2 separate regions of the Homo sapiens genome follow, and region 2 is linked to region 1. The links come from fine-mapping of genetic effects on gene expression. Tissue or cell type: whole blood. Region 1 holds a variant in brackets; the other region holds the start of a gene. All regions are shown on one strand. Distances are from middle to middle.

What was found. PIP is the estimated chance that this variant, and not a neighbour inherited with it, causes the effect.
Region 2: it holds the start of MRPS33, and the variant in region 1 is fine-mapped to the expression of MRPS33 in whole blood (INTERVAL, PIP 0.90).

The regions. Positions count from the first base shown.
Region 1 is chr7:140,716,860-140,725,014 of GRCh38, reverse strand. It overlaps a transcript of BRAF not described here. Among named protein-coding and RNA genes, the nearest start is that of NDUFB2-AS1, 24 kb to the right of the region's middle. The variant G/C (reference allele first, on the strand shown) is at 5,022.
Region 2 is chr7:141,010,926-141,019,080 of GRCh38, reverse strand. It overlaps MRPS33 (mitochondrial ribosomal protein S33), which reads left to right and starts at 4,129. Exons shown (of 3, transcript NM_053035.3): 1 at 4,129-4,170. RefSeq lists enhancers at 3,601-3,800, 4,321-4,370, 3,833-4,478, 5,621-5,690 and a silencer at 3,948-4,256.

The DNA of each region.
Region 1 (8,155 bases):
TGTCATCAGTTGTTTTTATAGAAAGAACTGGCATTCATTAAGAACCTAAATCTTATCTTTGCACAAATGGAAAATATAACCTAGTTATAGCTTCCTTTGGCCTTTATTAAAGGGTAATATCAATCACAGTCATAGCAAAGAAAGCGGATGTATTAATGGCAAATTAATGGAAAACCTCCCTTATCAGGAATCTAGACTCAGAATTTAGGAACACAAATCAAATCAGACCAACCAAGCTATAGCCAAGGACTTGAAAGAAATTAAACAAGACCCAGAATAAATCAAGGAATTAGAAATTGTTATTTAAAAATTTCAGATTGTAACTCCAGGCCCTGCTGTCTATATTGCAGCCACTAAAAGCTCACTACCATTAGATTTTTGCTAACATACATGTATTCAGAAGAAAGCCTATTGAAATTTTCATTGTCTTGTAAAAGGTTGTCCTAGTAAAATGGAAAAGATCCTTAAGTTATTAATCAGTTTGAAAAGCAAATTTGTTTTTAAGTTTTACATCAGCAGGGCAGTGTCTTACAAAATTCAGAAATTGCAAAGGTGGAAATAATTCACGCTGATTTGAAGAACATCTTCTGTGCAATAATACTGCCTCTCTTGAAAAGCATTGGCTGTTTTTTCTTTTTAAATATATCTCTAGATGCTTTTAAATGTGGCTGTGTTCCCTTTACCAAGATTGGCTTCAAGTTTCCGCAGGTAGAGAGACCTGGGCTTGAACAAGAGGATGTGTTTCATGTCCTGCTGAGGAGGTAGAACATGTGCAGCCTGGGTCCGGGACTGCCTCCGTGGGGCAGGGGCAGGGGCGGTACCATTAGGGAGGAAGCTTAGCATTTCAGTTTCTTAAACAATATTCAGGGTGATACACTTTTTCTTCCCTTGCATTTTAGAATAGGCTGGTATCTCATTTGAACGGGGGAGCAGACTTGATCTCAAATGAAGCTGTGCCCAGGAGCCAGGCTTAGCATATTGAGATTTTTATAGATACCTTAAAAAATAAAATATTTAAACCTCTCTTTTCTTCCTTTTTCTATGAAATAGGTTTTTTCTCTAGTTTACAAATGACATGAAAATAGGTTTTATTTGTGTTTTATCTGCTTTATTTTTTGATGCTTAGACAACAGTTAGACTTACTGAGCTCCTAAAAAAACGAGGAAGAAGTCCTTATTTGTGAAAAGCACTTTATGAGTAATTGTATAGACAGTATGTGGCTGCGTCACTGATCATCTTGTAAGGGTGTAACAGTCTTGTCTGTAAAGTGGCTGCAGTGCCTTCTGTAGTGTGTTTTATTTTTGGTAGGGAGAGGTGAAGCCTTCTGAAAAATTTGAGAGCAACTACAGAGGATTGTTTGTAACTGTGTAGTATTCCTGATGGACTTTTTTCATCGTTAGAGTCAAGGACCTAGACTTTTGCCACTGAAATAATATTGACCAAAAAAATAGTTTATAAAAGGGATTTGTGAATAGAAAATTCAGTGTGATCATTTGTTGTTAATGTGCACCTTAAAAGAAGATTCTGTCTAGCTGTCAAATTCTGGTTCCCGAATATCTCACCCCTGATTGTATTTGAGATCTAGTAGGGCATACTGGGGCATTTTAGAAGATAAAATCCCATACAAATGATATATGCTATATTTATGTTGGTGTTGGAGAAGAAAGAGCAGTATATAAAGAAATAATTCAAGACTGCAGCACTGTCAACCTGAAACTTTGTAAATATTTCCTAGCTTCTGGTTTGGTGCGGTGACAGCACTTTCATCACAGGATGTTACCTTGTATTCACCAGGCGGAGTGCGAGCTGCTGCACATCCTCCTCAGATCTCACCTGTCCCCACTGTACATCCACCCGCCAGCTGCTTGCAAACCTCATCTCTAGCTTTAGTTCGAAACCACATTGCAGGGTTCAGGTGACCTCTACAAAAAACTACCTCTTCAGAATGAGGTAATGAATAGTTATTTATTTTAAAATATGAAAAGTCAGGAGCTCTAGAACATGACGATGATTTAAGATTTTAACTTTTTTGTGTACTTGTATTTGAGCACTCTCATTTTGTCCTAAAGGGCATTATACATTTAAGCAGTAATACTGTAAAAAAATGTGTTGCTCGGAATATCTGAATGTTGTTGAAAGTGGTGCCAGAACCGGTTTAGGGGTACGTTTCAGAATCTTAACCTTGAGTCAATTGCATGAAATTAAATAGCTGTGGTATCACTTCACTAACAGTGATGTAATTTTAATTTTCAGTAGGCTTGGCATGACAGTACATCCTCATAATGAGTTTGCTGCAGCTTTGTCACATGCACAGGCATTCATAGAAAGACCACCCAGCTAAGAGGGTAGAATGATTACTCTTTTTGCAAGATTCTCTTCTTTGTCCAAGTTGGCATTGTTAGTGCTAGGAATACCAGCACCTTGAGACGAGCAGATTCCAACCATTAGGCTATAAACACCATAGCCAGAGATGGAAGGTTTACTGTGAGTATGAACAGCAAATAGCTTACAGGTCATGAGTTGAAATGGTGTAGGTGAGGCTCTAGAAAAATACCTTGACAATTTGCCAAATGATCTTACTGTGCCTTCATGATGCAATAAAAAAGCTAACATTTTAGCAGAAATCAGTGATTTGTGAAGAGAGCAGCCACTCTGGTTTAACTCAGCTGTGTTAATAATTTTTAGAGTGCAATTTAGACTGCATAGGTAAATGCACTAAAGAGTTTATAGCCAAAATCACATTTAACAATGAGAAAACACACAGGTAAATTTTCAGTGAACAAAATTATTTTTTTAAAGCACATAATCCCTAGTATAGTCAGATATATTTATCACATAGAGCAACTAGGTTGCAAATATAGTTCAGTGACATTTCTAGAGAAACTTTTTCTACTCCCATAGGCTCTTCAAAGCATGGAACTTTTATACAACAGAAATGTTGACAGAAATTGCTGTAGTTTAGGGTTGAAGTACTGTATGATGGGCAGCAATCATGTATTAACTTAGAAGGGGAAATTGAAATATAGGACCGAATTTGGTTTTATCAGTTTCCAGAGTACTGCTGCCAACCTAGACACTGATTTTTCAGAGTTTGAAATGTAAATTTCTTCCCGGGACTTGATTGCACATGAAGCTGGACTGCGTTAGTCATCCTGTCCCAAAGCGCTGTGGGGGCCAGGGTGGAGGTCTCAAGGCATCCTTTATGACCTGGCCATTGGATGTAAAAGAAAACATATTCCATGCTGTGGTTCTTGTATCTTGTTTCATTCCTCACCATTGAAAGAGAAAGTCCATGTATTGTCTCCAGCACATCCTTGAAATGTTATACTGGGATGGATTACTGATGCCCATCGGTAGTTGAGCCCCAGAAGAGGGTAGTAGCATCTCTGCCTCAGGTGATGATTTGTAGCTTGGCCAGAGGAGAGCGGAGTCACCAGTATATCTGTGGTCCATGTTGCTAGCTCTGGTAAAATTAAAAATACTGGTAAGATGTTTGTTTTATTAGTACACTAGACAGTAAGCTCTGTTTTGTTGTTTTCAAATAACCTATTTTCACTTTTGTTTGGGCAAAGACATTTAAATTGAAATTCAATTCTAATTTTTGTTAATTGTGGAAAGGGTAATTAACAGTTCCTATCAGGTATTTTTAATGTGGAAAAGGACAGAAACCCAACTCCTAAAATCTTAAATTAAGGTAACAGTGCTTTAAAAAAAAAAAATGCATGGGGCAATTAGTCGGCAACTCAATGAGTGACTAAAGTACTTTTATTTAACATCCACAACTTCAACTGTTAAGTTTTATTAATTACTAAATCAGCTTTATTAAAATGTTGACATTTATTTAGCTATTTTGAATAATTATAGTGACTTGACGAGTGTGTATGAGGACACAGCCAATGTAAGCCAGTGTATCCATTTTTTAGAGGTGCATTTTTTTTTAAAGAATTCTGTAGATAGAAGTGCTCTGAAAACAACTAAAATATGTTTATTCATGGTAGTATCAAAAAATGTTTGTACAAACCATCTGCTTCTCCCGGCCAGCCGAGTTCATTCTCCAGCACCGTGACCGCTGGTTCTCATGTACAGCACATATGCGGGAGAGTTGGCAGAAAATTTGTGAAGAGATGCCGCAAAGGAAGGGTCTGTTGACGGGTGGGATTGGGGGTTTTGATGAAGTTGCTTAGTCCTGGTTTTGTTTTGAAAATTACTGCGTTGCATTTTTGTGTTAAGTTTTTGAACCCACGTGTGTTTTGGTGGAGTATGAGTTGGAAGTCACTGCAAACTAGCATAAACAACAAAGCTCACAGAGTAGGCACAGATGTAGAGAACAGAGACCAAAATGGGGTGAGGTGGCAGTAAATCTAGGATAGGGAAAAATTAATGTGAGGGTGGGAAATAAACTGTAATTACCTGAAATCAAATGTAAGAGTGCAATAAGTATGCTTTTTATTCTAAGCTGTGAACGGTTTTTTTAAGAATCATTCCTTCCTAATACATTTGTGTATGTTCCATAGCTGATTAAAACCAGCTATATCAACATATAATGCCTTTTTATTCATGTTAATGACCAACGTAAGTGGCTAGCCTTTATGTCTTATTTATCTTCATGTTATGTTAGTTTACATACAGGGGTGTATGTCTCTGTGCTGTCCCCTTCTCCTGCCTTCATTTTAAAATGCATCCATGGGTCCTCCGTGTTTCCTTTGGCCATGCCACATATATAGACTCAGTTTGGCCTTCATGATATCGCCTGATTTTTGAGGACTGTATCACAGTGATATGTATTTGTGGTAATCTCATTTGTTGGTTGTACATCTGATCCTTTCCTCAACATGGCAATTGCTGCCTTTCCTAAGATAGGATCATACAACTGATCAGGGGATTGAATTTGATCATTCATCAACATGTGTCTCTGAATTTTATTCAGTAGTTGTCATTGCTCTTTGGTTTAGACCAAGAAAAAGGAAATCCCCCCTTTTCATGTATTCCTTGGTTTGAGGACATGACTCCTGTAAGGGAGA[G/C]GAAAGGGAGATGCTTCCTGTTTGAACTGCAGTGAATTCACGGTTCCTGTTTCACCACTCCAAACCTTATGGCGACTCACACACACATTCCTCTTTTCTGTTACTGCCAAAGGTTCGGGTTTAGTACACTTCAGTTCCACTCAAGCATTGAAAAGGTTCTCGTGGAGTCTGGGGCGTGCCCAGTGAAAAGATGGGGACTTTTTAATTGTCCACAGACCTCTCTATACCTGCTTTGCAAAAATTACAATGGAGTAACTATTTTTAAAGCTTATTTTTCAATTCATAAAAAAGACATTTATTTTCAGTCAAATGGATGATGTCTCCCTCTTTTCCCCTATTCTCAATGTTTGCTTGAATCTTTTATTATTTTTTTTAATTCTCCCCCATACCCACTTCCTGATACTTTGGTTCTCTTTCCTGCTCAGGTCCCTTCATTTGTACTTTGGAGTTTTTCTCATGTAAATTTGTATAACAGAAAATATTGTTCAGTTTGGATAGAAAGCATGGAGAATAAAAAAAGATAGCTGAAATTCAGATTGAAGAAATTTATTTCTGTGTAAAGTTATTTAAAAACTGTATTATATAAAAGGCAAAAAAAGTTCTATGTACTTGATGTGAATATGCGAATACTGCTATAATAAAGATTGACTGCATGGAGAAGTCTTCATCAAGACTATTTTTCTAACACGATTACATTCAGTAACAAAAGTAGTCAGCAGTTTTAACAGTTTTTCTAGACAATGGAGAGACTGAGAAATGTACATTTTGTTTCATACATAATGTTGGTTACTGCTTAGTGGGTAGAAGTTCAAGTAAGTTGTCAAGTTTCATGCATGGTAGGTTATACGTGCTATACAACTTGCAGTGGCAACAGTCGTTTGTCAGGTGTTGGTGATGACCCTTAAATATTTGAGATGTTGTGACCTGATGTATCTTTAGTTTCAAACCACTGCTTTCCTCCATGTGGTTCAGTTGGAGTATGTGCTCTACTTTAGTCATGTTTAAAGTTTATCTGCAGAAACTCACCTTAGAATTGTATTTTTTCAAACTTTTGACAGCTTACATTTTCTATAGCAACACAGCACACGCACGCTAACATTTACTTGAAACTATGCACTCATGTTTTCTACTTCATTTTTTTTTATGCTGGTTACCTCAGTGAGTTGATTTTCTGCATTTGATTTCATGACCCTTCCCCAAATAAAATTCACTGAAGTCTGAAAAACTCCTAGAGTATCTTCAGACAAAATATATCAAATTACTGGGCAGAGTTTCCAGAAAGGAAGTAAACCGTTTTAAAACTCATCTGCAGCCAGGTGCAGTGGCTCACGCCTGTAATCCCAGCAATTTGGGAGGCCGAGGCGGGTGGATCACCTGAGGTCAGGAGTGGAGACTAGCCTGACCAACATGGTGAAACTGTCTCTACTAAAAAATACAAAAATTAGGCCAGGTGTGGTGGCTCACGCCTGTAATCCCAGCACTTTGGGAGGCCAAGGCAGGCAGATCACCTGAGGTTAGGAGTTCGAGACCAGCCTGACCAACATGGAGAAACCCCCTCTCTCCTAAAAATACAAAATTATCCGGCTGTGGTGGCGCATGCCTGTAATTCCAGCTACTCAGGAGGCTGAGGCAGGAGAATCGCTTGAACCCGGGAGTGAGCCGACCGAGATTGTGCCATTGCACTCCAGCCTGGGCAACAAGAGCAAAACTCCATCTCAGAAAGAAATAAAAAAAAGCTGGGCATGGTGGCCAGCACCTGTAATCCCAGCTACTCGGGAGGCTGAGGCAGGAGAATCGCTTGAACCTGGGAGGCGGAGGTTGCAGTGAGCTGAGATCACGCCATTGCACTCTAGCCTGGGCAACAGAGCGAGACTCTGTCTCAAAAAAAACACTTCACCTGTTTATCCTTATGTCTGAGAATAATATGAAGGAACAGAAAAGCCTAAAAAGGGCTTGTGCCTGAGGAATCTGGTTTCACCCCTCCTCCCAAACAATAAAATGTTATCAAGACTTAAAAGGCTAAGGCAGGAGGATTGCTTGAGCCCAGGAGTTTGAGGCAAGCCAGGGCAATATAGCAAGACACCCACGCTAAAAATAAAAATAAATGTCAAGACTTAATTTCCTATGAACTGCAGTTTTTCTCTTCTGAAAATGGTAATTCTATAATATAAACATCATAGAAATTCATTTTCTAAACCTTCATGTGTGATTACAACAGAGTAGATGTGGCTTTAAGAACATACTATACCATATATGTGAGGTTTTCCTTAAAATTTAGCCCAGAACTATGGACACTTTGGTTATTATAAAGTTGTATTATAAAGAACTCTACCACACTAGCTCTTCTGAAATTTTATCAGGGGCTGTGACACTTGGACCTACTGTCTTTTGAGTTATATAGTTCTCCTAGACTCAAAATGTTAGGGCAAAAAGTGTTCTTAACACTGAGTTGGGCTCAATGGCTCACGCCTAAATCCCAGCACTTTGGGAGGCTAAAGTGGGAGGATCACTTGAAGCCAGGAGTTCCAGACCAGCCTGGCCAAAAAAAAAATTTAATTAGCTGGGCATGGTGTCACGCACCTGTGATCCCAGCTGAGGTCGGGGGAGACTGCTTGAGCCTGGGAGGTCAAGGCTGCAGTGAGCTGTGATTGCACCACTGCACTGCAGCCTGGGCGGCAGAGCAAGACCCTGTTTCAGAGAAAAAAAAAAACTGGTCCAACTCCTCTCCTATCAGTTGCTGAATATGCAGCCCCAAAGGATATGACTCGCTAGGCTTATGTAGCCAGGACCCAAGATCTGTAACATGCATTTTACATAGGTATATATTACAGATATATAATTTTGTCACGATGGCTGTAACGAGATTTGGATAGAAATGGGTATTGACTCCATGACAGTGAGTTCATAGCCAGAAATGGTTGTTGTGTTAGGCATGCTCCACTTGTCCCTACTGTTGTCATCACCAATCTGGGAAGACACTGCTAGTGTAAACAAAAGGCACCTGCTGAGGCAGGTCCACACGCCACCTCAGGGAGCTCCCATTTCCCTGACACTGCACGTTGGTGTTTCCCACCATTGCTCCTGGTGAAATGGTTGCAGCAGGCGACAGGGTCAACCTCTTCTATAAAATAGTT
Region 2 (8,155 bases), 290 kb before region 1:
AATCAAAATGTTTCCTATATATTTAATGAAGAATAAAAGAATATGCTATTTAAAAAGTAATCAGCCTAGAAGCTAAAGCATAATTTTATTTTTGTTAATAAGAGGCAGAAAGAAAGTCAGGATTGAAGTATTTCTCTATTTCATAATAGAATTTGATAAAAATAAGTGTATCAGACAAGATAGGCTAGGTCATGCTCCAATAACAAACAACAAATTTGTATGACTTAAAACAGAGGCATGTGAATTAAAACAACAACGGCTCATTTCTAACAAAAGCTATATTTCCAATATGGCTGGTGGAATAGGATCAGCCCTTCATAACAACTCAGGAGCACAGGCTGACAGTGCAACAACTCTCTGTCTCAGAAGGGAAGGAGAGCTCTGGAGTTTCATCAGGGTAAATAACCACCTTAATCGGAAGGTGACGCTTCACATCTGCTCATAACTCATTGGCCAGAAAAAGTCCTAACCATGATCCTAACCAATCTCAGAATTCCCATGAAATACAATCTAGCCAAAGTGGAAGGAAATGGAAAAGATTTGGTGAACTGTATCAGTGATTATCACAATACATTTTCACATTCATTGAACAACACACACCAAATCTAAAATAAAATTATGTATGACTTTTGCACAGTTTATTCCAGTGCAATGTGAAAAATATGAAGGTACCTGAAAATGATCTGTATGATATTTATAATGATCAGTGTCACGGCCAGGGGCGATGGCTCCCATCTGTAATCCCAGCACTTTGGAAGATGGAGGCAGGTGGATCACCTAAGGTCAGGAGTTTAAGACCAGCCTGGCCAACATGGCAAAATTCTGTCTCTACTAAAAATACAAAAATTAGCTGGGCGTGGTGGCAGGTGTCTGTAATCCCAGCTATTCAGGAGGCTGAGGCACAAGAATTGCTTGGACCCAGGAGACGAAGGTTGCAGTGAGCCGAGATCATGCCACTGCACTCCAGCCTGGGCAACAGAGTGAGACTCTCTCCAAAAAAAAAAAAAAAAAAAAAATCTGTCACAAAGCTCTACTACTTCAGCTGTTCAGAGTTGCTTTTCTTTCCAGATAATGCTATATCCTATGGAGAAGTACTGAGAATAGCTGAAAAGAATTGCTTAGGTTTAAATATACGGGAAAAAAAATTGGCTTCGATACTTTCTTCAGTGCTGCTTTGCTCTGCTCTTACCAGATTCTCCTTCAAAAACACTGCACTTTTCAACAGAGGATGGAAGACATCTGATGGTTAAAGGAAAATTACTGTCACTCTTACCACTAACATTCACACAGTATATCTGATTTCAGAAAATCACAACAAACCAATTACCATATTTCTGACAGCCGTACTTCACCCTTAAGTGGAATATATGTAAGATAGGAAAAGACATGAAGCCTAAGAAGGGTTGATGGTGCCTTGATTGATCATTAGAGGAAGCTTCCTCCAAAACATTTTGAATCTTCCTTTCATCTGTCATCCTGGAAGGTATATCCCTCACACCTTCAGTGATGGATATACCTTTCTTTTGTAAGGTCCAAGAACTACTGTAAATGCAGATGTAAAAAAGAACCTACATGATGCTAAGAAAGAATACTTATGAAAATACGGTATCTGTAAATTGATTTACTTAAAGCAATAAATATTCCCCTGCCCCTTGGACTATGCCACACCATAAGAACTTTAAGTTGATGTAGCTTTAATTCTTGCCCTGCCTAATGACAAAGAACATTTGCCAAAGAGTATGATGAATAATGAAATCACTTAAAGTGGAGGCTTTCCATTTTACCACAACCTACAGCAAGAAATATATTTATATTATGATCCAATGCACATATACATATTGTTTCATGAAACAATAATTACCCCTACTACATGTGATGCATTTAGATATTTTTTATCCTAATGTCTTTCTTTTAATGCTGGTCTCTATTCACTAAATTGATTTCACAGCCAACTAATGATTCACAGCACACAATTGGAAAACACAGGACTACAGAAAATAGAAATATATAAGGAAATATCTGATTTATAGAGCAATCTCTGATTATAAAAAGTGCTCTTAAAACTGCATTATCTTGGCGGTGTAAATGGGTAAGCCAAGGTCTGGTGAAGTCAATATCCATAGGAGGTTCAATTTTATTCTATTCATTTCATTTTTCCATCCCTAATATTCCAACTTTCCTATTGATAAGTAACAGTCTCTGATTGGCCAATTTCAATGGCTTACTCCTTCTAATCCTGTGGTAGGCTAAAACTGTTCCCCAAAGATAACAGAGTCTAATCCCTGGGACCTGCAAATGTTACCAGATACGGGGAAAAGGCCTTTGAAGATGTGACTAAATTAAGGATCTTCAGATTGAGAGAGTATTTTGGATTAGCTCCATGGGCCTTAAATGCAATTACACATTCCTAAAAGGGAGGCAATGGGAAGTCTGACACACATAGTGAAGGCAATGTGAAAAGGGAGCAGAGATGTGAAGATGTTGGCCTTGAAGTCTAAAGTGATGTGGCCACAAGCCAATGAATGCCAGCAGCCACCAGAAGCTGGAAGAGTCAAAGAACTGATTCTCCCCTAGAGTCTCTGGAGGGAACACAGCCCTGTCAACATCTTGATTTTGGCCCAGTGATGCTGATTTTGAATTTATGGCCTCTAGAACTGTAAGATAATAAATTTCAGTTGCTCTACAACACCAAGTTTGTGGTATTTTATTATAGCAGCCTCAGGAAACTAATATGAACCCCCATGAAATTGACTTAATAAAAGTGATAGTGCAAAGTACCTAAACAGTCACCTGAAACTCTATATACCTAGCTATGTTTCAAGAAAGATTTATGGTAGCTTATAGTAATTCACAAAACATTGATAACACCAATAATTCATACGTGAAAAGGAAAAAACAGGAAGGATATACAAAACGAAGCCAACAAGGTTTATGCAAAAAATATATATATGTGTGTGTATATATATATATACACACACATATATATAGCTCTTGCCTCGAGCCAATTAAAATTTGGCTTTAAACCAGCAGCTTACACGTAAAGGAAGTCTTCTTGTTTATATGATTCAGTGGCCATTACATAAAAACAAGCCAACTCCACAGAAACAAGTACAAAAGACAAGACGAAATTTCTCCCAGGAGTTTCGCTCCTTAGGACTTCTTTTCTGGACTGTAGCCATGTATAGGATACTCATTACCCCTTTGTAAACTTAAATGTAGTCACTAGACCCAACTTTATAAGGCTGTTTACTATATCATATAAGGCTGATAACATGTCAAAACTTAACTTGATAAAAGCAAATCCTATAGCATAGATTGATTAGACGTCAAATTCTAACTTAAAAGTAAATTCTGTAGGAGGAAAGAGGGTGTAAATACAATACCCACTAGGTAGGCAACTCACTACCGATATTAATTCCAGGGTACATTTTGAAATATTTATAAAATGCCTTGAACGATACTCAGAAAACGAGTACAGTTTCCTCACCCAAACTATCAAACATTGAGTAAGTGCTGCATACAATGCCTATGGGATGTGGCTTGCTTGAAAACAGATTTAGTATGGGGTGAAATACTCACAATGCTTTCTACTATCTGCCCAGCGAGGTCTAAGATAACTACTGAGGAGACAAACGTTCCATCCCCTACTCCCTGAAGAAGCTCCTGGGTCAATGGGGGAAAGCGCTCCTAACCCAGTAGCAAGGAAGGCTTGCAGCTAGGGATCCTAATTAACTATTAGAAGATGAGCAGATAGATGGAAGGGGAGGGGGATGGCGCCGCAAGTCGGTCAGAAAGACCACACGGCACACGCATCGCCATTGCTTCAGAGCTTTTGGAGGCAGGTCTGTAGCCATTCCCACCAAAACATACTACCGAACCGTGCATGCCCTTCCAGGAGAGCCAGACCTTTCTAACTCTCCCCAGCCCACCACCTCCCCGGGTCCTCCGCACAGGCGGCGGCGCTAGCCTTACTGCGCAGGCGCCAGGTACACCTCGGAGGCCTCAGGAGGGGGAGCCAGTAACTCCGGGTCGTTCACTAGGGCTCCGCTCTAGCTGCCAAGCTTCCGTTTCTCTACTGCTCCCCGTAATAGTTGCCTGCGCGAGCTTGGAGCCGGGTAGAGGGCGGGCCTTCCGGGACGAGGGCGCGTGGGTGAGGAAGGTCAGGTCTAGGTAAGGCTGTCGGTGACTTTGGGGGTCTGCAGCAAGGGGCGATGGCTGCGAAGTCTACGGGGGTCTCCAACCTTGTAGAGTCGCCAGGAATAGGGCGAATCCACTTCATTAGTGACCAGCTCGGGCGGTTCACGTGCATCACACAAATAACTTGGCCTTTTTCTGCCTCAGTTGGGGGATTTCTTAAACGTAGAATACCCGCGTTTCCGCTGCCGTAATTTCCTCTCAGGCGCAATTACTCTCTTCCATATTGGTTAACAGTAGAAGGCTCAGTTTCTCTGCTCATCACACGGCCTTCGGCACTGTAGCTTTGGGTGGTGGGCTGCAGATTAATTTTGTAACCACCTTAAGAAAAATACGGTAAGGTGATATTTAAGAAAAATATTTGCGAAATGCGCTCCCGAGTCAAACATCGGTTGACTTGACAATACTACAGTTTCCATCACAGTCAGGCATGATCGAGTCAGGTGGAGGGAGTTGAAGATTGTTCTTGATGAACTGAATGCAGCTAATACATTTTCAGTGCCGTTGATGCCTCTATGACTCCGTAAAATAATCGGTACCGGGTTTTTTTGTTTTTAAGCATTCTGTTGAGATTGTTTTTATGTTTAGATTGTTTCTATGACAACGTGTGTACACTGTATGTGAATTCCTTGGATCCTGATGGTTATTAGGGTGGGCACTGTGCCGTGAATTTTGCATATTAGCTTCACATCGCAGATAGTATGACTGTCCTCGTGTAGTCGATGAGAGAACCTGGCAGAGAATAAGCACCATTACAAAAACGACGTGGCCATTAAAAGGCAGAGGCGAGATTCCAACCAGCTTTTTTATTCTGCAGCTGGTGCGTTCTGCTAACCAATGGTTTTTGGGAAACTGGAGAAAGCTCTCTCCCAGAACAATTTACACACACACATACATACACATATCGGCATACAGATGTACACTTCCACTGTTTTCAAAACGCTGAAGCACATCCCGGTTAAGAACTCTTGCACTTCATCTTTACCTTTCAAAGAGAAAAGGCAAACCTAATACAAAGCCACTTATTGAAATAATCTTTTAAATGCATCAGACCTATCAAAAAGATCAAAGAAGTTTGCCCTGTTATGCCAAAGTAAAAATATGGGAATTTTCTTCTCATGTGGGCTTAATTTGTTTTGCTCAGCACATTTGAGTAATTTGTTTTTGCTTAGCATTTTCAGCTCCAGTTAACTTTTTTCATGAGAGTACAGTTTTCTTTAGTTCACATTTAAAGAAAGGTAACACTTAAAGTGACTTGTACTCCCCGAGAATGGTTTCATGTGAATCAAAATGTAATTGACATGCACGTTGTAAGAAAAGCTCCCGTGTTATTCTTCGTGAGAGACATGTGTCTGTGCACTGTGGAAGGAAACAACAAAGCAGTGTCATTGGTAATTGTTAAAACCACTTTCAGTTTCCTCCTGTTTAGCAAGTGGGCCTTTGTTTCTAGTAAGGGATTCAGGTTTGAAAAGGCTTATTCCCTTTCTCTGTCATAAAACTTTAGGACTTGGATTTTATGATATAACCATGTTCCAGCCTATTCTAGTGTGACCTTTTTACTTACAAGTTATGTATCCCAGTAATTTGCCACATTCCAAAATGGGCATGGACATAACAGCAGCATCCTGTGATGGCTTCAGTGACTACTGTCCTACTGAGTCCCTTCCTCCTCCTGGCTATCTTGTCAAGTTATCAAGGTGCTGGTCCTCTCCCTATGTTTCTCTGGCTGTCAGTCTTTGTAAATGAGGTCATCATTCCAGGGAGGCACAAAGTTTTTACTATATGGAGTATCTATCTGTCTGTCTCTCTCTCTTTTTTTTTTTTTCTTAAACATGATTAAGAACAAGGAATAAACAAATGTGTCTATGTAGAATATATGAAAACCAAACTTACAGATCTGGGCTCGTTCTTTTTTGTAAGTTACCATTTACTACTCAGTGCCACTGTTACTCATTTTCGCACTAGTCATGCAAGCTTTGTTTTCAGAAAAGGAGACTCAGAGAAGATGAGTAACTGTTCACAATAACCCAAGGATTAAGTGACAGAGCCAGTAGTCAAACCTAGGCCTCAGGAATCCCTGTTGCCTCTTCATTGACAAATAAAGGGACTTGGAATTCAGAACAGATTTTCCTGAAAACACTGTAACAAACTGATAGTTCCCATACCAGCTTACAGATAACTAACTGTGGAAATACTGTGCAATTACAGCAGAAATATATTCTGATGCCACAATGGTAATTAAGCAAACAAAGCAAAGTTGATGAAGCAACTATTGTTTTTTAATCTAATGTTTGGAAAAAGGTAACTTTAAAGGGCAAAGGAAGAGAAAAAGCATGCAAAGAAACTAGGTGACTCTGGACATTTGCAAGGCTTTTTAGAGGTTTATGGCACTGATTTGTTTATACATTAAACTGCTAAATGAATTTTTTTCACCTTGAGACTATAACCCTAGTCCTAACAACCCCACCCCCAACCAGAGTTGGCAAAGAAGTGAATCAGGAAACTGAGAATGCTGAATGGAAAAGGAAGAACAGGCTTGTAGGTGATCTGCAGATGGTGGGGAGGGAGGGGTGGACGTTGGATCTGACAGTTCTACCGTTGCCAGCCTTCAGGTGGCACTATTGACCCAAAATTGCTTGGTTGGTGTTCTGAATGGTTTTGAGGTTGACAGTGGTTTGAGATCAGCCTCTGCTTTTTTTTTTTTTTTTTTTTTGACACACAATCTTGCTCTGTCACTCAGGCTATAGAGTACAGTAGTGCAGTCATAACTTAGTGTAACCTCAAACTCCTGTGCTCAAGTGATGTCCCCCTCCTCAGCCTCCACGAGTAGCTGGAACTACAGGTGTGCACTACCATAGCAGACTAATTTTCTTATTTTCTTTTGTTTTTTGTTTTTTTTTCTGTAAAAACAAGATTTCTCCATGTTGCCTGGGCTGGTCTTGAAGTCCTGACCTCAAGCGATCCTCCCACCTCAGCCTCTCAAAGTACTGGGATTATAGGCATGAGCTACCATGCCCAGCCTCCTCTGTTAATGGATCTTGAAACAGGCATTAAAACTTCCTTAATTTAAACACGGTTTGTTTTCTTACAAGAACTATTTTGAAATTCACTTGGCACCATTTTTATGTAGGAGGGTTTTTGGTACATTTCTCCCATTGGTTTTTCAAAGTTTATGCCTTTTTCCTGCTTGAATATCAGCACCTTTTCATCTCAGCTGAACTGTTTCCCAGGATAGTCTCTGAGTCAGCAAAGATTCTCATCTCACTACTAAAATTTCTCATAAATTGGCATATTCTGCCAACAATAACCCCTACGTCTGGTCTAAACTGAGTTGAGATAGTTATTCCACCAGCAGCTTTCTTGATTTTTATGTATCCCCTGTATAGTTTTTTATGTCTGTTAGCTGTAATTCGTGCATATCACGGATATCATTCTTATACCCATTTCAGTGTTGTATGTCTCTGAAGAAAAAGCTACTGTTTCCAGCTGATAAGAACTTAGGTAGTTTGCATTAAAGCAGAATATATAAGATGGAGGATACAGCAAGTAACCTTACAATTCATACGTGCCTTCTATTTAGTAAGAAAATGGATCTTTTGAGCTATTGGATTTATTTTTATAGGGCTACTGTCTGTTTTTCCCAAATGGCTCTCAGTCTCTAGGCAAAATTCAGTTCAGTAACCTAGAAGCCAAATGACCTCATAACTCATTAGCAGCTCTCAGAGCCTTCTGGAGCCCTTGAGGAGAACAGTGTTCAAAGGACTGATAGTAAAGACAACATAATTATGTCTCTGCCATGATTACACCTTTTGATGGCAAGCAGTCAGCATATTAATGCTGCAGATTGCTTAGGTGGGTGTTTTCTGAAGGTATAATGATGCTGGATTAGGATAACTTGTTTCCCTGTCTTCTTCATCCCCAGCCTACAAATAGGTAAACTGACTGTCAGTAAATAACCTGG